4 separate regions of the Homo sapiens genome follow, and all the other regions are linked to region 4. Evidence: fine-mapped expression QTL. A gene starts in region 4. Each other region holds a variant in brackets. All regions are shown on one strand. Distances are between the middles of the regions.

Region 1 (5,000 bases), 190 kb after region 4:
ATGTGCTCCCAGAGAGGTTATCAAATCAATAGCACACTTAAGAAAACATCAGATGTCACCACAAAGCAAACCTCTCAAGATTACTAATATAAGTATGTGATCATGATGCTGTATGCACAAGTGTTTGAAGTGTTTTCTCTGACCCATAACTATAAGACATCAGATGATATTGAGACACACCCTCAGTCACCTGATTGGAGGCACAGAGGTCTTCTAGAACACTTCTGTCCGTGGCCTCAGCTCTTATACATGTCAACACAGATTTTATCAGACAGTCACATTTCTTTTTACATCAGTGGAAACTAACTGTATGGGAAGAAGTGAACATATATAACATTCATTCATTTAATCAGTCATTCTTTCAGCATTAGTAACCACTAATGTTTATACCCCGCATTGTGACAGGCACTCTTAATAACACTTTACACATTTTTAACTAATCCTTGCAAGAACTATCTATGGTGGGTAGTTTTGTTATTATTTTCATTTTGTAGATAAGGAAACTGAGGCACAGAGAATTTAAGTAATTTGTCCAAGATTATACACCTGGAAAAAGGCAGAGCCATGATTTCAACCCAGGCAATCTGGCCTCGCCATCTGTGCTCGTAACCACGAACTGACTTTGAAGCATTGAGTTTCTACCACATGCCAGGGGCCATGCTAGATGTTGGGGATTACTGCTGTGAACAAGTCAGTTTCTGCTCCATTAGAGCTTATAACCCAGATGAGCAGGAGTTTTATGCTATCTCCCCTGTTAACCTGGAATCAAAAAACTAGGAAACATAGTTATAATCATTCTTTACTTGAGTGGAGTATACATATAATTTTTTTTTAAATCATTACTTGGCAAGTGAGACTAATGTTTCTTTTTCACTCGGGCACACACACACATACTCTCAGAGAAGTTCAGTTTAAGTTGAAACATCATATTGAATAATGTTTTGATTTAGTGATTAAAACAATTTTGGTGATTTAAATTGACCAGGGGTTGTGGGCAAATTTTTTGCCTGAGCTGAGTGATGAAGCAATGAACATGCCCACTAAATTAGCATTTGATAAGAAGTTAGACCACAAGGAAAGAGGCTGTTCATCTCATTAAACTAGAGAAATGATCCACTGATACCTGAAGGATGTCTGGAAGGAGTGAGCACACAGTAACCACCCCAGGGATACCAGTAGGGAGGGAGGCCTTTGGACACAGGCGAGTTGGTGGCAGCCTGGAAGACAACAGGGGTCACAATGGAGTGGGACTTAGTGGTGCAGTAGCTTATTTAAAATCAACTTTCCACAACCCTAACAAAACGAAACAAAACCCCATCCCCTTTAGGAAATGGGCAAAGGAAAGGAGTTGCATAGATGTTTCTCCAAAGAAGATATACAAATAGCCAATAAGCACATGAAAAGAGTCTCTACATCACTAACCATTAGGGAAATGCAAATCAAAACCACAATGAGATACCACTTCATACCCAGTAGGATGGATTTTATCAAAAAAACAAAGTCACAAGTGTTGACAAGGATGTAGAGAAATAGGAACCCTTGTGCATTGCTAGTGGGAATATAAAATGGTGCAGACTCAGGCTGGGCAGGGTGGCTCATGCCTGTAATCCCAGCACTTTGGGAGGCTGAGATGGGCAGATCACAAAGTCAGGAGTTCGAGACCAGCTTGGCCAACAAAGTGAAACCCCGTCTCTACTAAAAATAAAAAATTAGCCGGGTGTGGTAACATGTGCCTGTAGTCTCAGCTTCTCGGGTGGCTAAGGCAGAAGAATCGCTTGAACCTGGGAGGCGGAGGTTTCAGTGAGTTGAGACCATGCCACTGTACTCCAGCCTGGGTGACAGAGCGAGAATCTGTCTCAAAAAAAAAAAAAAAAAATTGGTGCAGACGCTATGGAAAACAGTATGGTGGTTCCTCAAAACATTAAAAATAGAATTATCATGTGATCCAGCAGTCCCACTTCTGGGTGTCTGCCCAAAAGAATTGAAAACAGGGACTTGAACAGATCTATACACCCGTGTTCACAGCAGCATAATTCTCAATAGCCAAAAGGTGGGAACAAGCCAAGTGCCTATCAATGAATGAATGGTTAAACAAAATGAGGTTTACACATATAATGGAATATTTTATTCAGCCTTAAGAAGGAAGGACATGGCTGGGTGCAGTGGCTCACGCCTGTAATCCCAACACTTTGGGAGGCCAAGGCAGGCAGATCACAAGGTCAGGAGATCGAGACCATCCTAGCTAACACAGTGAAACCCCGTCTCTACTAAAAATACAAAAAATTAGCTGGGCGTGGTGGCAGGCGCCTGTAATCCCAGCTACTCGGGAGGCTGAGGCAGGAGAATGGCGTGAAGCCAGGAGGCAGAGCTTGCAGTGAGCCGAGATCATGCCACTGCACTCCAGCCTGGGCAATAGAGTGAGACTCCATCTCAAAAAAAAAAAAAACAAAAAACAAGATAGAAGGACATTCTGATGGATGTACCAACATAGATGAAAATTGAGGACATTATGCTAAGTGCAATAAGCCAGTCACAAAAGGACAAATAATGTGTGACTCTACTCATATGAGGTAC[G/C]TGGAGTAGTCAAACTCATAGAGACAGAAAGTAGAATGGTGGTTGCCAGGGCTGGGAGGGGGAATGGGAAGCTATTGTTCAGTGGGTGCGGTTTCAGTTTTGCAACACGAATAGAGTACTGGAAATGGAGGCTGGTGATGGTTGCACAACAGTGTGAATGTACACAATGCCACTAAACTGTACGCTTAAAAATAGCTCATTAGCAAATTTTATGTTACGTATATTTTACTACATTTTAAAGAAACGAAACTTTCTGAGCTCCCTTTGTTAACATGTGTGGCTGCAGGAGGGTTTCCAGCATTCGTAGATGACAAGGGACCCTTCTGCTCTTGAGATTCTCCGGCTCTGCATCACGGAGCCAATGTTCTTCTGGGATGGACTTGCTGAGCCACGGAAGCAGCCTCCCAGCACCCCACGCGCATGGATGTCCTCTTTCTGTGAGGCTTTGGCTCTGTGCTGTTGCCTTCACTAAACATAGATGCTTGTCAAGAGGGACAAAATCCCCCAAATGCAATGAAAAATTGTCTGGAAACTGAAGATTTGGTTTATGAGGCAAAAGTAGAAGAACTGGAAGAGGGGAAATGGCAGGAAAATGTATTTGAAGCCACGTTTGTTTATGAGAGGATCCTCCTTTCTCCGGGGTTGGAGACAGCCATGTCCTGAGATTAGGAGTGGTGCTGGCCCAAACCCCTCCCCCCATTTTCACAACCAGTACTAGGCTTGCATATGACTGGTGTCCCCCAGTTTAAATCCTCATGGGATATTCTGCTTCCTTTCCAGGGAAGTTCCCTTTTCTAGTTTTTTTTCCAAAGATGCTGGAGAACCAGCCTTCAGGGCATCCCAGCCTCCCTGTCAGCCACAGGAGAGAGCACTGGCTGACCGCCGGGGGCTCAGAAAGCCGAGCAGCTGGGAGAGGCGAGGCTGGGCCAGGAGGGGCACCATGGTGAGGCCCACACCAAAGCCACTCCCCGCGAGTCATGGCATCCAGAAGGTTTATTTATTTTTGTGCTTTTCTTTCCAAGATCTCCAAGTTCTCCCCATATCTCATTCAACAATTCAGAGTATGGGAGTGTCCTCTTGAGACTTCTTGCAGGTGTTTCCTGGAAACCTCTGGCTCCCCAGCACCTGGCCCCGGGCTGCCTGCTACAAACATTAATACCTGTCTGTGCAATGCATGCTTGAAACTTTGTCCGTGCAGAGTAGCCTGGTAGCTCTTCGTTCATAGCTAAGCTTGTGTCTGCCTGTGTTTCATCTGTTATCCATTTTGATTTCTACTCTGCCAAGTTTCACTGTCTGATAAAATGATGGCCATACTTTCTGCAAATGGGCGGTATAAGGTGCTTGCTGGTTACCCAGCCAGCTGTGAAAAAAAATCAGATATTCCAAACACAATTGAATTCTAGTTCATTTGTAATGGTTGCATTTTAAAGTAAGGAAAGTTTACTATTTAAAAAAAAAGAAAAAAAAAGGAACCTGAGAACAGGGAAGAGAAATGAGAGAATCTCCAAATTTATCCTATAAGTATTCTTGTGGGGATCCTGAGCTGAAAACAACTGGGGAGAATTGATAAGCCACCTTCAGATGATCAGATTCACTGTCCTTTGAACACCTCCCCCAGTTCATGGGTAGAGAGCGCCTGCTTTCAGCCAGGCATGGTGCCAGGCTCAGGAGGGCCAAGGCCGGAGATGGCACCATCCCAGTCTTCACGCAGCACACAGTGAGATGTGGAGGCAGAATCACGCTGGAGCGTGCTATGCCTCCGAAGAATCGCTCACCTTCAGGGAGGAGGGCTGTCTGTTTCTGAGCTCTAGGCCAGGCATGGACAAAAGTGCTGCCTTCAGTGTCCCTTGGCACAGTGGAATCAAGCCATGCGAAACCAAACAGCCCCTCATGGAAACACACAGGAAATGAAGGCAGAGAAGGCAGGAAATGTAAAACAGGCCAGGATTCACAGGAGCAGCTGATTGATGCAAGGATGCGCGGTCCCATGTGGCCCTGGAGCCCAGAGAGACACATCATCCACCTCTGGTCCTGGAGAGCCGCTTGAGCTTCCCAGTGCCCTGCCAGGCCCCTTCCTTCCTAGTTCCCTCCTGACTGTGCAGAAGGCGCCATTTCTATATCACAGAGCTTCATGGATCAAGTCCATATCACACTGTGGCCCAGGCCCTTCCCCTTCTAGGTCTAGGTGGTGGGATTCCCATTCTTCTGGCATCTGCCGTTGTCTGCTGAACTGGGTCCCAATGTCTCATTTCTTCACTGTGCTCCCCTCCTCAAACTGGGTCATGTGGAGAAATCAGGGCCTTGGGGGCTCAGCCAGAAATAAAGACCGAGAGATCCTCCAGAGAGAAGGTCCTCTAGGAGAGGAAGGGTGGCAGAACAGAAGAGGCCCGGGACTTGCTTCCCAAATGTCAGAAATTACCAAAAAG
Region 2 (5,000 bases), 33 kb after region 4:
ATGGCAGAGCTTCTCCTCGGGGAGTCGAAGCTGGAGCAGTACCTGAAGGAACACCCCCTGAGGCAGGGGGCCAGTCCCCGAGGCCCCAAGCCCCAGCTGACTGAGGTCCGCAAGCATCTGACCGCCGCCCTGGACCGAGGGAACCTTAAGGTACCATGGGCCTCTGGGCTGAGGCGACACTTCCTTTGGACAGTGTGGGGTTGAGAAGGGTGCCCAGGGTTGAGCCGGGTGACGTTTGGAGCTCACCTGCACACTGCCAGGGCTTGTCTTCTTAGAAGCGGGCCAGCTCCCAGTTGGGTGGATGTGCCAATCTCTAGGCTGGCTGACCACTGTGGGGGCTTCTGGGCCAATAGGGTCTCTCTGATGAGAGTCTTCAATGACACGTCATCTGCACAATGCCACTTATCTCTCAGACGCTTGAACTAAAGCTATCCGATATAACCCAGAGCTTAACCTGACATGTTACGCAGTTCTAGAAAAGAGAGAAGTTAATCAGAAGGATGCTCAGCGCACAGCTTCCTGCTCATCAATGTAAGAAGCCACTGTGGCCCAGAGCTGTGGGAGGTTCCATACTGGTGCCAGCAGGCCTGGCGTCACAGTTGGGAGGGGGCCAGGAACTTCCCCACGTCTCAGCAAGAACCCTCACCCTCAGGCACAAGGAATCTTAGGTGCTGCCCCCTATCTGTCCATTCTGTTTTCCGGTCTCATTACACCCAGGTTTCCATTCCCTCTCACGTGGCTTTCCTTCCTTTCTTCTTGGACTCCTCATCAGTTCCTTTTGCTTTTCATGGGGGTCATCTCCTCTTCCCGCCCTGCCCTTCTGCCTCCCAGGTGGCTCACACTCCCCTGGCTCTAGATGCTTCCCCTAGTTCAGATGGCTGTCTGTGGCCCGCTCCATGCTGCCTGTCTTCCCCAGGATGTATTTCCCACTGAGGACAGTCTTTGGTGAACTTCTGGAGCTCTGACTTCCGTTTCCTTTTAACTTTGATGACTTCTTTCTCATTTTTCTTCTCTTCCTGTCTCGGAATCCTCTGAGACTCCATTTTTGGTCTTTATTCTTGTTTGTGTGTGCACGCTTCCCCCCGGGAAGCCATGCTTTCTTTGGCTTTACATTTCATATCTGTACTGCAAACTCCAGCCTGCTCCCGACTTGCTGTGTGACCCCGGGGAGGTTACTCGCCTCTCTGCAGCTCAGTTTCTTTAGGTTTGAATGGGGTGGGCTCTTAAAGGGGTGAGCTTGGACCTTCCCGGCTCCTGCATGTTCTAAGCCTGTGAGCTTTCAATTTGAGCTGTTCCTCCTCTTGGTCATCTGGCCACCTCCTTGGCCCTGCTGCAATGGAGGGCCTGGGCAACCTTTGAGTAAGTTAGTATTGGTGTTGGTCAGTTGTGCAGCAACAGGCTTCTGGAAACCCTGATAGAGAGCTGCTTTCAAAATTGTCTCTGTGTATGTTGTATGCACGGGACACAGCTCCAGGCCGCTAGGAGGTGGCTGGAGAGCGTCATCTCAACACAGGGATCTTGCCCCAGGCCCCTAGGGGGTGGCTGGAGAGGTCAGCTCAGCATAGGGATCCCAGGTACTTAAAGACTCCCTGCTGCATTTGGGCTTCAAAAACCAGGTCTTCTCTTTCCCCATTCAGTTTCTCTGTAAGGGCCATGCCACACTTTGGTGTGTGGCAGATCACTTGAGGCCAGGAGTTCAATACCAGCCTGGCCAACATGGCGAAACCCCATCTCCATCTCATCCATCTCATATGTTTTTTTTTTTTCGAGATGGAGTCTGGCTCTGTCACCCAGGCTAGAGTGCAGTGGCGTGATCTTCGCTCACTGCAAGCTCTGCCTCCCGCGCTCATGCCATTCTCCTGCCTCAGCCTCCTGACTAGCTGGGACTACAGGCACCCGCCACCACGCCCGGCTAATTTTTTGTATTTTTAGTAGAGACAGGGTTTCACCGTGTTAGCCAGGATGGTCTCAATCTCCTCACCTCGTGATCCGCCCACCTCAGCCTCCCAAAGTGCTGGGATTACAGGCGTGAGCCAC[C/T]GCTCCCGGCCTCATCTCATATGTTCTTAACCGATGACATGATGACACAGGTGGACACAGGGGTAGGTCTTGATCTGGGGACACAGGTGGTAGGTCTTGATCAGCAGGAGAGAGTGAAGGGACAGCAGGCACATGGGCCACAGCTCACAGTGATGGCCAGCCAGACTCAAGTGTCCTGCTGGGAGGTGTGAGGGGAGAGATCTGGCTTGTTTCTTTCCCCCGTCTACCCGCCCCCCAACTTCATCTTGAAAAATTCACTTTTCATTTCACCAGGTGCTGATAGGTTTTGCTTTCCATCCTCTACAATGCAGTGTGGTAGTAAGCCCATTGAATTTATTTTATTTTTTATTTATTTATTTATTTTGAGACAGAGTGTTGTTCTGTCATCCAGACACCATCTTGGCTCACTGCAACCTCCACCTCCCAGGTTCAAGCAATTCTTATGCCTCAGCCTCCTGAGTAGCTGTGACTACAGCCGCATGCCACCACACCTGGCTAATTTTTGTATTTTTAATAGAGACGTGGTTTTACCATGTTGGCCAGGCTGGTCTCGAACTGCTGACCTCAGGTGATCTGCCTGCGTCGGCCTCCGAAAGTGCTGGGATTACAGGCCTGAGCCACTGCACCCAGCTGTTGAATTTAATTCAAGTTAAAATGCTTGAGTCTGAGTCCAGTTCTGGATTTATAAGCTGTGTGATCTTGGGACGTTACTTAACCTCTCTGAGCTTCATGTTTCTCAGCTGCAGGCCTACTTAACCCAGGATTGTTTTGAGGCTCAAATGGAGAAATTCTTTCAAAGCTGTATAGCACTAGATACACATCATTTCTTGCTATGTTATTAGTTCTACCTAGAGAATTTTTTTCTCCCATTGCTCTTTTTCACCTTCCTCCATCTTATAAAGAATGTTCCAAAGCCGTACATCTTTTGCATGGGTGTGCTGTCCTACTCACACCAACTAATGTGAAACTTTCTCTTTCCTTGAGCTTAAGTCCAGCTTGTCTTAAGTGAATTGAGGCTGGGAAGACCAGAGCCAGCCAGGCATGTAGTGGGATGGAAAGAGTCCTGGACTAGGAGTCAGGACATCTGGCTTGTGATTCAAGGCAAGAAAATGGTCCTTATTGTGAGCAAGGTGGCCCCTGACACTGTGTTGGGGCTGTTCTCCCACTGCCCAGGCAGCCGAGGCGCCCTGGCCAAGCTGTTTCCTGTACTTGGGTGGAGACTGGACTCGCCCAGGGAGGCTCTCCCAGTGTGTCCAAGCTGTGCCTCTAGGCTTGCAATTTTCTTCAAGCGTTTTCTCCACCTGGCTCTCCAGTTTGCTTTTGTTAACCTTTTTTTTTTTCCCTTTTGGTAAAATATACATAACTTACAACCTAACATTATAGCTCTTTGTAAGTGTACAGTGTAGTGGCGTTAAGTATATTACCATTGTCACTCAGCCGTCACCACCCTCCATCTCCAGGACTCTTTGCATCTTCCCAGAGCGAACCTCTTGTGATGTGTCCATTAATGCTAACTCCTCATTCCCCCTCCTCTTTCAATTCGCCTTTAATCCAACGGTTCTTAGAGGCTAGAAGCTTGGGGAAGGAGGGTAGACTTCCCAGAATGTCCTAGGAAATGTTTTCAAAATACCCAAGCCTGGCCTGTCCCCTACCTGGGTGGAGAACCCCTGTGGTGGATGCTTTTTTTTGAGACAGAGTCTCGCTCTGTCATCCAGGCTGGAGTGCAATGGCGTGATCTTGGCTCACTGCAACCTCCGCCTCCTGGGTTCAAGTGATTCTTGTGCCTTAGCCTCCTGAGTAGCTGGGATTACAGGTGTGCACCACCATGCCCCACTAATTTTTGTATTTTTAGTAGAGATGGGGTTTCACCATGTTGGCCAGGCTGGTCACGAACTTCTGGCGTCAAGTGATCTGCCTGCCTCGGCCTCCCAAAGTGCTGGGATTATAGGTGTGAGCCACCGCACTCGGCCTGGATGCTTTTTTTCTCTTTTCTGAGTCTGCTTTGATTTCTCTGTCTCCAGATGTAATTCTAATTCCTCTGGTGCCTCTCCCTTGGGCCACCCATAAACACTTTTGCTCCCATCAGTCCTGCTTGTCCACTGCACCATCCTTTCCAATGCTGCCTGATGTCCCTCCCTCTTCCAAGAAATGCCTGGAAGCCGACCACGCTGGCTGAGATAGCTGCTGTAACACGCTGTACCTGGCTACCTGGCCGTGTTGTCCACTCATCAAAGCTCTAGGTTACAGTATAAATAGTGCGGTTTCATGGTGTGCTTCTGTAAGCAAAAACCTCAGCTTTGAACCGCTTGGGCTCTGAGGAGAAGGTCTGGCCACAGAAGATAAATCTGTTTCCTTATATAGGTGGCAGGGTGGCCTGTTCTTTCCCTAGGTGCCGGAGGACGGGTCAGGGAGGAAGGCAATGATGAGGCTTTGGGGAGAGGGGGACTGGCCAGGCCAGCCTTGCTGACTGGGAGGAAGGGGGGCCCACAGAGAACTTCCAGCCCTTAGCCTCTAGGGAGGGTACCAGGTCACCTCAGTTTAGAAACTTCAATGGCTCAGTGAGAAACTTCGCCCTGGAAAGCAAGCAAGTCCTGATCTTCACATCCATTTGGGAAGGCTCTCCTTGGTTATTTGGGTTACAGGGTTGTGGTGCATCTCCAGTGCCATGGCCAGACCCACCAGGATGTCTGGCCGCTTCCTTTTCTGAGACAGGTGCTTGTATGTTTAACTTATGAAGCATTCCTTCCTTCCCAGCCGGCCCAGCCCAGCCACAGGCCTGATGAAGGGAGCCGCAGGGTTTTGTTTTGGTTTGGTTTTTGCAACAGCTTTATTGAAGTGTGATTCACATACCATACAACTCACCCATTCAGAGTGTCCACTTCAGTGATTTTTAGTATATTCATGAAGTTGTGCAACCATCACCACAATGAATTCTAGAACATTTTCATCACCTCCCAAAGAAA
Region 3 (6,109 bases), 280 kb after region 4:
CATGGCTCTGGCCTTCTTCCTAGTCTTCTGACCTGCTGAGCCTTTCCCAACTAAGGACATTCATCCATCCGTCCATCCATCCATCCATCCATTCATCCGTCCACCCGTCCGTCCGTCCGTCCATCCATCCATCCATCCATCCATCCATCCATCCATCCATCCGTCCATCCATTAATAGATGAGGACGCAGACGCTAGACACTAAGACGGCAGGACACCTGCCTGGGGTCATTGTGGAATTACCTGGCAGAACTAAGATTGAGACAGGCCTGAGGGATAAACATTTCAAAAGTGCCCAGGTCTGCCCAGTGGAGGCATTTTTTGGACAGTGAGATGCAGGAGATGCCGCGTTTGATTCCAGGACTAGTGCTGACCCTAACTTAGGCAAGGCGTTCCTGTTCCCTGGTCTTAGTCTCCCCATCTGTGAAATTTCATTCATTCATTCACTCATTCATTCATCCAACAAATATCTATGGAATGCTCACAACATGCCAGATGCTTATTCCAGGCACTGAGGGCACAGCAATGTGTGACACAGATGCTGCATCCACTTAGGACCTACCTTCTGGTAGAAGGAAACAGACAGATGAGGAGTATGGCAGGTGGGGTGACGCATGGAGAAAGATGAAGCCAGGGAAGGGGTGTAGGGAGTGGCAGGGCTGCTGTTTAGAAGGTGACTAGGGAAGCCTCGCTAAGAAGGTGACATCTGGCTGAAGAAAGACAGGTAACCTGGGAGGAGGACATCTCAGGAAGCAGGAACAGCAGGTGCAAAGGCCCAGAGGGGAGGGGGATGGTCAGGTGGTGAAGGATGAGAAGAGGTCAGAAGTTTAACAGGGGCCACACAGGTGCGGCCTCGTGGACCATGCTAACAGTGTATATTAATTGCCTGTGGTTGCAGCAAATTACCATAAACTGGCTGGGCATGGTGGCTCCTGCCTGTAATCCCAGCACTTAGGGAGGCTGAGGCAGGAGAATCAGCTGAGGCCAGGAGTTCAAGACCAGCCTGGGCAACATGGTGAGACCCCCCCCCCATCTCTACAAAAAAAAAAAAATAGCCAGGTTTGGTGGCGTGCACCTGTAGTCCCAGCTGCTTGGGAGGCTGAGATGGGCTGATTGCTTGAGCCCAGGTGGTTGAGGCTGCAGTGAGTGATCACGCCACCGCAGTCCAGCCTGCATGAGAGAGCAAGACCCTATCTCTACAAATAAAATAAATTAAAAATTTTAAATGACCGCAAACTTAGCGTCTTAACACAAATTTATTCTCTTTGTTTTGGAGGTCAGAAGTCAAATCAAGCTTTCAGTGGGGCTGTGCTCCTTCCCCAGGCTCTGGAGGAGGACGGGTGTCCCCGTCTTCTCCAGCGGCTAGAGGCTTCCTGCGGCCTTGGCTCGTGGCCACCTCACGTCACCTTTCCTTCCTCTGCTCCGTCACTGCGTCACCTTTCTGCCTTTGACCTCCTGCCTCCCTCTAAGGACTCTGCTGGTTGCTCTGGGCCCCCTGGATAGTCCAGGGCCATTGCCCCACCTCGAGAGCCTTCGTTCAATCACATCTGCATCGCTCCATCTGTCATGGAAGGCAACATAGTCACAGGTTCCAGGGCTCGGGATGTGGACGTCTTTGAGGGGCAGGGGGAGCACGTTATTCTGCAGGCCGCAGCGTGGGAGCTGGGAGGCTGTCAGGCTCCTGCTGTCACACAGCGACCATGGTGCTTAGACCAAGGGGCGTGGAGGAAGTGGCGAGAGGCACTGGACTGTGAAGATTCTGAAGACAGAGCCAAGAGGGTTGCTCACACATGGAGCTGGGTGTGAGGGAGGGGAGACGCCAGGGATGAGGGTGAGGGTCTTGTCCTGAGCTACTGGAAGGATGGCGATGATGGCCAGGAAACAGGAAGAATAGGTTGGGGAGGAGAGGAGAAGGCAGGAGTCTGCTTTCAGGCAGGTTGAATACAAAATGCCTGTGGAGCCTCTGAGGGGGAGGCAGCTGGCTGGGCAGGAGCCCAGGCGAGAGCCCAAGATGAGGCGAGAGTGTGGGAGGTGTCAGGGATGCGGGGCTGGGAGCCATGGGCCTGACGGGGCCACTTCGGGACAAGCATAGACAAAGAGGAAGAGGTCAGGGCTGAGCTCCGGGGCTGGCGGGGTTTACAGGCTGGGAAATGAAGAGATCAGGAAAGAAGGCGCAGGAGCAGCTGCAAGGGAGGCGGAGAGCAGGCAGGGTGAGCTTCCTGGAGGAGGTGGGTGGGCTCTCTCAATGCCTGGAGACCCCGTCAGGGTGGCCTGAGAGCTGACCGTGGGCCTGGTGGTGTGCAGGTTGGCAGTGACCTTGACCAGAGCCATGCTGGGGATGCAGTTTTGCTCCCCCAGATTCATAGGGTGGAGCCCCCGCCCCTGTGTGACTATATTTGGAGATAGGCCCCTTAAGGAAGTAATTCAGGTGAAGTGAGGTCATCAGGAGGGGCCCTGGCCCAGTAGGATTGGCGTCCTCACCAGAAGAAACTCTAAAGTGCAAGTGAGCTCACGCTCAGCCACGCCAGGACACACGGAGAAGGCGGCCACCCGCAAGCCAGGAGGGAGCCTCACAGGAACCCAGATGGGCTGGAACCTTTGCTTTGTTCTTTGAACCTCCAGGACTGTGAGAAATTAAGTTCATTGTTGAAGCCACCTGTCTGTGGCGGTTTTCTTACGGCAGCCCAAGCTGACTAAGGTGGGGTCAAGCCAGGTTGGAGTGGGCTCAAGGGGGAGGAAAAGGTGAAGTCTCTTTCAAGAGCGTAGCTGCAGAGGGGAGCTGAGAACACAGGTTAGGAGTCCGGTGGGGAAGGGGCCGTGTTGAGTGTTGAAGGCGGCCTCGCTGAGCACCTTGTGTTTCCAGCAGGGCAGGCGTGAGGAAGGAGAGAGGGAAGCTGAGGGGGGCTGCCTTGGCTGGGGGCCTGGTGGTTCCCCAGAGCAGCAGCAGCAGGGAGGCAGAGGCCTGGGTACCCCCAAGCCAGGGAGCCCTGGGGACGGGGCACCCACTCCTCAGTGAGCAGGGAGCCAACTTCGGGCAGGGTGGGGTGGCGAATGGACCAGGAAGGGAAGGAGGAGGCAGAGGAGGGAGGAGGCCCTTCTTTGAAGGAGCCGCCCCACTCAGCCAAGAGGATCTCAGGACAGAGCCAGGCTGGGGGCCTGGGCAGGTGTGGCCGGGGCAGGCCACTTCCCATCCCCAGCCCCATTTGGGATCCATGGGCTCGTCTGTCTGTCTCTCTGCCTCCTTCCAGGTCCTGGGCCCTGGGCTGTGGCCAGGGCTCTGCTCACCCTCAGGGCTGCGTGGGGACCTCCCTCGGTGGGGAAAGGAGGGAACCAAGGCCTCCCGTTATCCTCCATGCCCCCTACCTGTGGTCATGGCCTGGGGGAGGTGCATGCTCGTGCACAGGTGGGCGTGTCTGTGATCACATGGAGCAACCCAGACTCCTCCAGATGGCCCCACGCATCTCCCCGGCGGCCACACAGTCATCATTGCGGGCCCAGACTCTCTGCCTGCAGGAAGTCCCCCCTTTGCAGGCACCCTCCCCATCATCCTTGGAGTTCTCCACGTCTGCCCTGTCCGTGCTGGGCCTGTCACCAGCCTGTCACCTGCTGCCCCAGCCCCAGCCCAGGTCCCTGCAGCACAGCCGGCTCCAGGCTGGAATGGGTGACCCGGCCCTACTGAAGGAATTTCAGGGCAGGGTCAGCCACTCTGGCCACTGTCTCCCTCCAATGCCCCCATACCCTCCCAGCGCTCGGCCCCTGCCACTCGGCCCCCTCTCTCCATATCGCCACCTTCTCATTCCTGCTCCTCCCCCACCACCTCTCAAGGCCGACAGGGTGGGCATTGCCCAGTGAGGGGACACCACTCATATTGAAGTTCTGTAAACTGTGTCTTGGGCACTGTACCAGGTGGCTGCTCCCATCCCTCCCCTAGCGTCTGCTTGCCCTGTCCATCCTGCCTACTCCAGAAGCAGCCACACACTTGACCATAAGCCTTTGAGGCCTGGCCGGAGTCCTCCGGGGGAGGCGGGCAGTAGCAGCCGCACTGGGCCTGAGGACCCCACACAGGAAAATGGGCCGAGCCCCAGGGCTGAGCCTTAGGGCTGCGGCCGTTCCCGCCACTAACATTCCTCCCACACTTGTGGTCA[T/C]GCATTTCCTGCTGCCCCTGCCCACGCTGCAGCCAGATAGGAACAGAAAAAGGACATCCTGCACCATTTCAGACAGGAATGTGCTCCTCCTGAAGGTCTTTTGGGGGCCAGGCTGAGGCCCCCCCTCAAGGTCACACCGTGGGGGACCCACTCCAGCTCTGCACCTGCTGGGGGTGATCCTCACTGTGCCACTGTCCCTCCCTGGACTCAGAATCAGATGAGGACAGTCACCTCTGCCCAGCCTGCCTTCTGGGCTGAGATGTGAGTCTGCAGGCAGCTGTCAGAGGTGGTGTGTGCCAGGTAGGGGACACGAGGGCTACCGCCCCTCAGGACCACCACACAGGGCCTCAGGGCCAGGCCAGCAGGCAGGACTCCTCCTGGACACTCAAGCCCTGAGTGGGGCTGACTATGGAGAGGTGGCAGGAAGGTGGTGGGGGATCTTCTGCAGGTCTGCCTGGAGCCAGCAGCTCCCGCTGACCATCCGGGCCACCCACAGCCCCCACCACCCTCCTCGTCTCCCTCATCTTCTGCTGTTTGGCCCTTGACCCCCTGAGGACAATAGGGTTTCCTGGTGACCACTGGGCTGTGGGTCACACAGATCTGGCTGGAATCCCAGTTCTGCCTGGCCGTGTCACCTCTGATGGGGAAGCACTCTGTCTCCTCATCTCTATGGTCGGGGAGTAACTTCCCTTACGGGCTTTTGGGGATATTAACAGAGGTCAACCTGGACAGGGCATGGGGCCCCCGGGGTGCACCATAAAGTCTTTCCTTCTTTCTTCTATCCTCAGGCGAGGGGTGAGTGGCTGCTGGGACGTGCTGAGGGGTCCCTGAAGCAGGGCAGGAAGGGCAGAGCTAGCTGCAGCTGAGGCAGAGTCCGAGTCCCGCTCTGCATGGAGGAGGAGGTGAGGGGCCTGGTCAGCATGGGCATGGCTGGGGGCCTCTGTGACCGCCACCACTCTTGTCTTTGCCTCCTTGACCCCACAGGGTCATCCTCGGGCCCTGGGTCCAGCCAAGGCCTGAGGAGGGTCATGCATCCCTGTCCCACTTGGTCACAGCACAGGAGGCTCCCATCCGCCACTGCCTGAGGCGGTGCCTGTGGCCCAAGGGCTCGGGTTGTGGGCCTGCTGGGCTGGAGCCTGCATCGGGACCTGGCCACCTACTCTCCTAGGAGCCTTAGGTGAGTCACTAGTCCTCTCTGAGCCTCGGTTTCCTCATCTGTGAAATGGGGAGAACAAGGTGGTTGTAAAGATTCAGAGGGTGTGTAAAACACAAGCACATGGCCGAGCACAGCCCAGCCCTACCCCTGCATGGCTCCTCCCCCGGGCATGGCAGGAGGTCAGGGTTTCCAGCCTGAGCTTAGCCTGCCATTCAGCAGTACCCAGGAAGGCACAGCTACCAGGAAAATGACCTCCCCAAGCCCATGGAGGCTTCCTGAGCACCCAGCCCAGCCTGAACCTCCACCCACCCAGGTGGCAGTGAGGCCTTCCTGCCTGTGTTCAGCCACGGTGTATCAAGGACCCCTGGCCAGACACAGGTACCTGGGCTGGGGAGCTGGTGGTCTTATTGGGGACTGGGAAGACAGACCCCAAACAGAGGGGTAAACAAATAAGATAATTACCAGCTTGGCAGATGATTAGAGCAAATTTGAAGTGACAGGGGGAGGGTTACTTTAGATTGGCTGGTCGGGGACACCTCTGTAAGACAGTGACATTGAGTGACAAGAAGGTGCCCACCCTGGAGGACACTGGGCTTCTTCACCTTTAAGAGGGATGGTGAGCAGAAGCCCAAAAGCGTCAGGTTCTGCCACTTTGTACCAGATGACTAGGCCCAGCCAGTTTGCAAAAGGGCTGGCCCATCCTCACATTGGCCCATCCTCACATTGCCAGCAAGGACCAGACCATGTGAAGAGGGAAGAGCATCCTGTAATGTACAAATAGGGGATCAACTTTAAATTATCTCCAGAGT
Region 4 (6,213 bases):
CTATGCGGCTTGCAAGGGGCAGAGAGACACAGAATGACAGCCGACATGGCACTCTATTGGTGCACTGGCACTGTTTTTTTTTTTGAGATGGAGTCTTGCTCTGTCACCCAGGCTGGAGTGCAGTGGCATGATGGAGATGCAACCTCTACCTCATGGGTTCAAGCGATTCTCCTGCCTCAGCCTCCCGAGTAGCTGGGACTACAGGTGCCCACCACCATGCCCGGCTAATTTTTTTGTATTTTTAGTAGAGACAGGGTTTCACCATGTTAGCCAGAAAGGTCTCGATCTTCTGACCTCGTGATCCACCCAAACTGCTGGGATTACAGGCGTGAGCCACAGAGCCTGGCATGCTGGCACTGTTCTCTGTGCCCTACCTGTATTTCCTCATTTCCTCCTCAACGAGCTCCAGGGGGAGGTATCACAGCCAAGAAATGGAGGCCTGGGGATGTTAAATGCCATGGCCCAGGCAGCATCCGTCCTCATGAAGCCACCTTATCAGGTAGGGAGGCAGACAGGTGGCCCTCATCATTTACCTTCCAGTGTGGCAACTGAGGCAGTGTATGCGTTAGTCATGATTAAGACCCTGCCCCTTCCCAGAGGGAGATGGCAAGTGCTGTCACACAAGGTCTGTCAGATGTTGAGCAAGGCTGCCCAGTAACCTTTGGCCCGTGTCTGAAAGAAGGCACAGGAATCTGTCTCCTGGTCCAGATGGAGAACATTCCCAGCAAATCTGGAGAGGCAGACTGGAGTTGGGAGAACAGGAGGGTGTCAGGAGAGAGGAAACATCTCCTGTGGAGATTTCTTCTCCTTCCCTTCCTGCTCCCTCTTGGTGGGAGCTAAGGGCCAGGGCACTAAAGGGTCCCCTGTTGAAACTCTAACGTTCTAGTTCCCCTTTCCCTGGGCTGTTCACAGTGTCCAGGGCCTGTCAGCTCAACTTCCATCACCTTGGCAGTCCCTGAGGCACCTGAAAGTGATACTGGTCACATCAGAACACATCTCCTTATCTTTCCTCCTCACCTCTCTTAAATGTCTGTGATTCAGCCTCCTCATTGGTAAACTGAGGTCCACAGTGTGTGTTCTTCATCAACTCCGGTGGTGGGGGAGTTGTGGTGGGGATAAGAACCTGCGTGTGACTGCTCTTGGAAAGTTGGAGTAAGGGCACCCAGAAGGAATGACGACGACCCCTCAGTGCCTCCTTGTGACTGCGGGCGGGCTACGGAACCTTCCAGACTGACCGCTTCACTCTCAAATGCAGGACCCAGAATCCAACACTGCCACCACCACAGCTATTTCCCTGGCAGTATTCTCAACACTGCAGTCACAGTGATAGTCCAAAGTGTAGGTCTGATCATGCCACTCTTCCGTGAAAAGCCCTGCAGGGCTGCTCCATGTCACCAGAGTAAAAGTCAAAGTTTTTTTTTTTTTTTTTGAGACGGAGTCTCTCTCTGTTGCCCAGGCTGGAGTGCAGTGCTGCCATCTCAGCTCACTGCAAACTCCGCCTCCCGGGTTCACACCATTCTCCTGCCTCAGCCTCCCCAGCAGCTGGGACTACAGGCGCCTGCCACCACGCCCGGCTAATTTTTAAAAATATTTTTAGTAGAGACGGGTTTCACCATGTTAGCTAGGACGGTCTCGATCTTCTGACCTCGTGATCCGCCCACCTCGGCCTCCCAAAGTGCTGGGATTACAGGCGTGAGCCACCGTGCCCAGCCAAAAGCCAAGGTCTTATAATGGCCCACCAGGCACTACACAGAACTCCCCCCAACCTCTCAGAGTTCATCTCCTGCCTCGGCCCCTCTCCTTCGCTCCACCCAGCCCCTCTGGCCTCTGCCATTTCTCCATCCCACCCAGTGTGCTCTAACCCCAGAGCCTTCGCACTTGTGGTGTTCTCTGCCTGGGATACTCCTCCCCCAGAGATATCCTCATGGCTCCCCCTTAGTTTCTTCAAGTCTAATGCCACCTCCGTGAGGCCATCCCTGACTGCTCCATTTTAAATGGCAACACTTGCTCAGGCTGAAGTGCGTTCACTGCTCACTGCAGCCTCCACCTTCTGGGCTCAAGCAATCATCCTGCCTCAGCCTCCTGAGTAGCTGGGATTACAGGCATGAGCCACCCGCCTGTCCCAACTCTTTATGTTCCTCACTGAACCCTTCCCTGTTTCTTCAAATAGCCATTTTTACAGTCTAGTTTACTATTTTATTTTGCTTATTTTTCCCCCAAACTGGAATGTAAGCTCTCTCAAGCCAGGAATTTTGTTTTTTTAGCTCACAATTCTATCTCTGGCACCTAAAGCAGCGCCCAGCACATAGTAGGTGATCACTAGACAGTTGATTCACTGAGAGAACACAGAGGGACACCTCCCTAGGTCTCAGTCTAGGTGGCCAAGACAGGAGGCCCCACCAGTGACTGTGCCTTCCCCTCAGGGGGTCCGAGAGCTGGCGTGTGAGAGTGGCAGCCCCTGCCTGGCTCCGCTCAGCCATCTAGGGCACCCCTGGCAGGTGCTGTGCCTTGCCTGGGATGGAGGAGTCTCCGTCCACCTCTGGCTGGGTAGGGGCTAAGGCTGCGGGGCAGAGGGGCATCTGCTAAGGGGCACAGGCCAACCGGGCCCCAGGGAACCGCTGGCCACCTGAGATGGCAGGACAAACTCGGGCAGGCCTCCCCCCACCCCTCACACCTGGCTCACTGGTCCCACCGGGCGGTGACCTTCCCCAGGGTCACTGCCCTTTCTTGGCCCTACTCCTGGGGATCCAACCCGCTCCCAGGCTGTCGCTAGCTCCCTCCCGATCCTCTCCCTCCCCTTCATCCTGCCCAGACCCCTACCCCACCAGACCCCTCACCCGCCCTTGGTCAGATCTCTCTCCTACCCCGCTCCCCCACCCCCATCCCCACTTCCCCTCGGTCTTCACCCCGCCCCAGACACCCCCAGTCCCTCTCCCTGTCCTCCATGCCCACCCCGCCTTTCCTCCCTCGGGCCCCTGTCTCCCGCCCTAGCCCCCGCCCCTGCCCCAGCCCTGGCTCCGGCCCCGGTCAGTGCTGCGGCTCCGGCCCTGGCCGGCAGGGGCCGCTCCTCGCGGCGCCCGGGGCCCCGCCGCGCCCGCCGCCGCCGCCCGCCTCCCCGCCCCTTCCCCAGCCGGCGCTCCCGTTACGCCGCGGAGCCGGGAGCCGGAGCCCGAGCCCGCGGCGGCGGCGGGAGGCGGCGAGGGGGCGCCGCGGCGGCGGCGGTGGGGCCTGCGGGGCGGGCGGCCGGGCCCGGCCAGGCCGCGATGGCGACCAAGAAGGCAGGCTCGCGGCTGGAGACGGAGATCGAGCGCTGCCGCTCCGAGTGCCAGTGGGAGCGGATCCCTGAGCTCGTCAAGCAGCTGTCGGCCAAGCTCATCGCCAACGGTACGCTCCGGGCGCGCCGGCCTGGGCTGCGGGGGGCGCCGCGGCCTCCGCGGGAACGGGCCCCCGAGGCGCGGCCGGGCGCGGGGCGCGGGCAGGGGCGCGGCCGGGCCGCGAGGGAGCTGCGGCCCAGGGGATGTGCGCGGGACCGGGGCCTGGGGGAGCCCGGGTGCCCCGGAGTCACGCGGTGTGGGGGCCCGGGGGGGCGCCAGGGGCTGTCCCGGCGCCTGGGGTTCAAGCGTGCAGGGCGGGCTTCTGCGGAGTCTGGGGTGTCCGGGGGTCTCAGCGAGTCCGCTGCTCCACTGGGACCACAGGAGGTCAGGGGCCGGCCTGGGGCTTCCAAGAAGTTGGAGGTGATGGGGTGAGGGGGTCCCTCAGGACATGGGTGAAGTCCACAGTGTGTGTATGGTGTGCTCAGGGAATCAGGATGTGTTTATGGGGTCTTGAGAATGGGGTGTTGTACATAGACCCCTGGGGAATCTGGTTTGTAAACATATGGTGTTTAAGGGGTTCTGGGTGGAAGCGCAGACTCGAGGTGTGTGGGGTGGTGGTAGAAAGCAGGCTGGGATGTGCGTCCTGGCGTTCGGAGAAGTAGCATCAAGGCTGCCGACCTAGAGAGGTCAGGGTTGGGAATAGAGGAGAAATAGAGTCAGGGGGACCTGGAGGGAGAATATTGTGGAGCGAGATGGGAATGTGGTTGAAGAATGTCGGGAGATGGAGTTGGGTGGGTGAGGGGTTGGTGCCTGGGCCAGAAGGGGGTCTGAGGCAGCCTCTGAGTAGGAGCCTGGTGCCTGGAGTTGGTTCATGACCCCTTTAACTGGATTGGTTCTTGTACCCAATCAAATAAAATTGCATCCAGAATCCCATTCCAGTGCACAGCTCCACGTGGCCTTATTTGTTTTGGAAGCGAGTATCTTTAATATTTGCTTGTCTTTTAGTACCCGCCTAAAGCGCAGGCACCAGCACACCGTGGCCAGAGGGCAGAGGGTTTGTCTCATTTCATCCTGGGCTTCCCCAGGCCCAGTGAGCACATGTTGGCTGAACAAATGAATGAAAGAGTGAATGAATGGATGGCGGGGCTGCTCTAAGAAAGGACATCTGCACTATTTTCAACCTTCTCACTTCAGACTACCCAGAAAGGAGAGGGATGTCAGGTGTCCTCCTGGAGGGTGGTTTATGTTTGTGTCCTATGGTATTAGTGCCTGGAAATTAGAACTTGGTTTTGCGCACTCTCAATGATGGATGCATGCTGTGGGCAGGTACCTTCTGGGTGAACGCAGGTGCCATGGTGTGTCAGGGGCATGGAGATAGCACCGACCCTACACGGGCTCCACTTGGTGGAAAATGTGGACCCTTCTCAGTTATGTCAGCCTTTGAGGAGATGGTGTTCAGTGCCCTGGGCCCCAGAGGCAGCTTGCCTTTGCCCTCCGTGTCGGGCTCACCTGCTTCTCCGCTTACCTGCAGCATTTTCTCTTTTCCTCTCGGAGTTGCACAGTCCTGGGTCTACTTTGTGGCTTCCCAGCGGTGTAGGCATAATGACACCTTCTGTGCAGGTTGATTTTAGGATTAAATGGGTTTATTTGTGAGCCTCCTGGTCTTTTTTCTTCTGAATCCACTTGTTTCCTGCTGTCTTTGCTTATTCATTCACCCAATATTTGCGTGCCCACCTGTGCCAGTCACAGAACAGTGGTGAACAGCACTGACCAAGCCCCTGCCCTTATGCCCTCACCCTGCTCTCAGGAGGCAGGTGATAAGCAAATATGGAAATAAATAAACAGCACAGCTTCAGATAGTGAGAAGTGATTGAAACAAAACAGATGAGTTAATGTGATTGAGAATGACAGGCAGATGAAGGGGGACTCAAGCTATGATGGTCCCTGGAATGAGAGGGTAGATGGGTTTTTGGTGGCCTGGGCCCTTCCTATTCACCTTCATGGCCCCCGAAAGGCTTAGCTCTCTTCCCAGGGGCTGCTCCCAATGTCCTAAGATGCAGTCATGAGTGGGGCTTGGGGATCGGGGTTTGCGGGGGCACTGTGGTCCATGGGTCTGTGTGCAAGTTCAGTTTGGGGAAACTCATGGGACATAGATTTTTGTCCTAGAGACTCACATGGTGAGTGGTAGCCATTGATGGCAAAAAGTTACCCGGACTTGAAAAGATCAGACAGAGTGAGTGCTCAGGAAAATAAAACGATGAAGCCAAGAAAAAGATGAAACTAAACTAGAATGATTGTGGCTCTCCTTTGGTGTTTGCAAGAGGGGCCTTCCCTCCGTTTGACTGGTGAGGCCTTCCCACTCTCGGGCTGGTAGAGGGACTTCTTCCTGGCTTTTGGGGGCACCGGCTCCCCCATAGATTCTCGGGTGCATGAGCACAAGTTCTGGGCAGATTTTGCAAAATCCTGAAGTTAAAGCATCTTCTGCTTAGAATAAGGAAAGCAAGTGAATGTCACGTTTGTCACACTAAGACAGTTACCATGAAAACAACCACAGGCGAAAAAAAAAAAAAAAGAATACAGTGTTTGGAGCCAGCCAGATGGGGGACTGATTCTTGTGACCTTGGCCACTTCTTGACTTTGTGACATTGGCCAAATCACTTAACCACTCTGAGCCTCAGTTTTCTCATTTTAGAACGGGATTTAAATGACTTACCTTGCAGGGGTTGTTATGAGGGTTAAAGTAGCTAATGTCTCTCAGGGCCAGCCACTCATTCCTTCCTTCCTTCCACAAAGATTGAGTACCTGCTCTGTGCTAGCCACTGTTTTAGGCACTGGAAATACACTGGTAAACAAAACAGACAAAAATGGCAAAAATCTCAGCCCTTATGAAACTCACATC

Which allele goes with the higher level. Alleles are on the strand shown, and positions count from the first base shown. SD is a standard deviation of normalised expression in the study named. Not every link is listed here.
In carriers of allele C in region 1, the expression in monocytes after R848 of the gene that starts at base 3,129 in region 4 tends to be lower than with G alone (large effect, 0.92 SD a copy in Quach 2016).

What was found. PIP is the estimated chance that this variant, and not a neighbour inherited with it, causes the effect.
Region 1: its variant is fine-mapped to the expression of TTC7B in monocytes after R848 (Quach 2016, PIP 0.95).
Region 2: its variant is fine-mapped to the expression of TTC7B in lung (TOPMed, PIP above 0.99). The same link has a PIP of 0.9 or more in monocytes.
Region 3: its variant is fine-mapped to the expression of TTC7B in testis (GTEx, PIP above 0.99).

The regions. Positions count from the first base shown.
Region 1 is chr14:90,628,285-90,633,284 of GRCh38, reverse strand. All of the region lies in intron 15 of TTC7B (tetratricopeptide repeat domain 7B), which reads left to right. Among named protein-coding and RNA genes, the nearest start is that of TTC7B-AS1, 12 kb to the left of the region's middle. The variant G/C (reference allele first, on the strand shown) is at 2,575.
Region 2 is chr14:90,781,324-90,786,323 of GRCh38, reverse strand. It overlaps TTC7B (tetratricopeptide repeat domain 7B), which reads left to right. Exons shown (of 20, transcript NM_001010854.2): 2 at 1-150. Among named protein-coding and RNA genes, the nearest start is that of TTC7B, 33 kb to the left of the region's middle. The variant C/T (reference allele first, on the strand shown) is at 2,038.
Region 3 is chr14:90,532,295-90,538,403 of GRCh38, reverse strand. TTC7B (tetratricopeptide repeat domain 7B) reads left to right here. Exons shown (of 20, transcript NM_001010854.2): 20 at 1-6,109. Among named protein-coding and RNA genes, the nearest start is that of LINC00642, 80 kb to the right of the region's middle. RefSeq lists enhancers at 3,868-4,698, 4,733-5,233. The variant T/C (reference allele first, on the strand shown) is at 4,145.
Region 4 is chr14:90,813,346-90,819,558 of GRCh38, reverse strand. It overlaps TTC7B (tetratricopeptide repeat domain 7B), which reads left to right and starts at 3,129. Exons shown (of 20, transcript NM_001010854.2): 1 at 3,129-3,384. The coding sequence starts at 3,264. RefSeq lists a silencer at 2,956-3,135.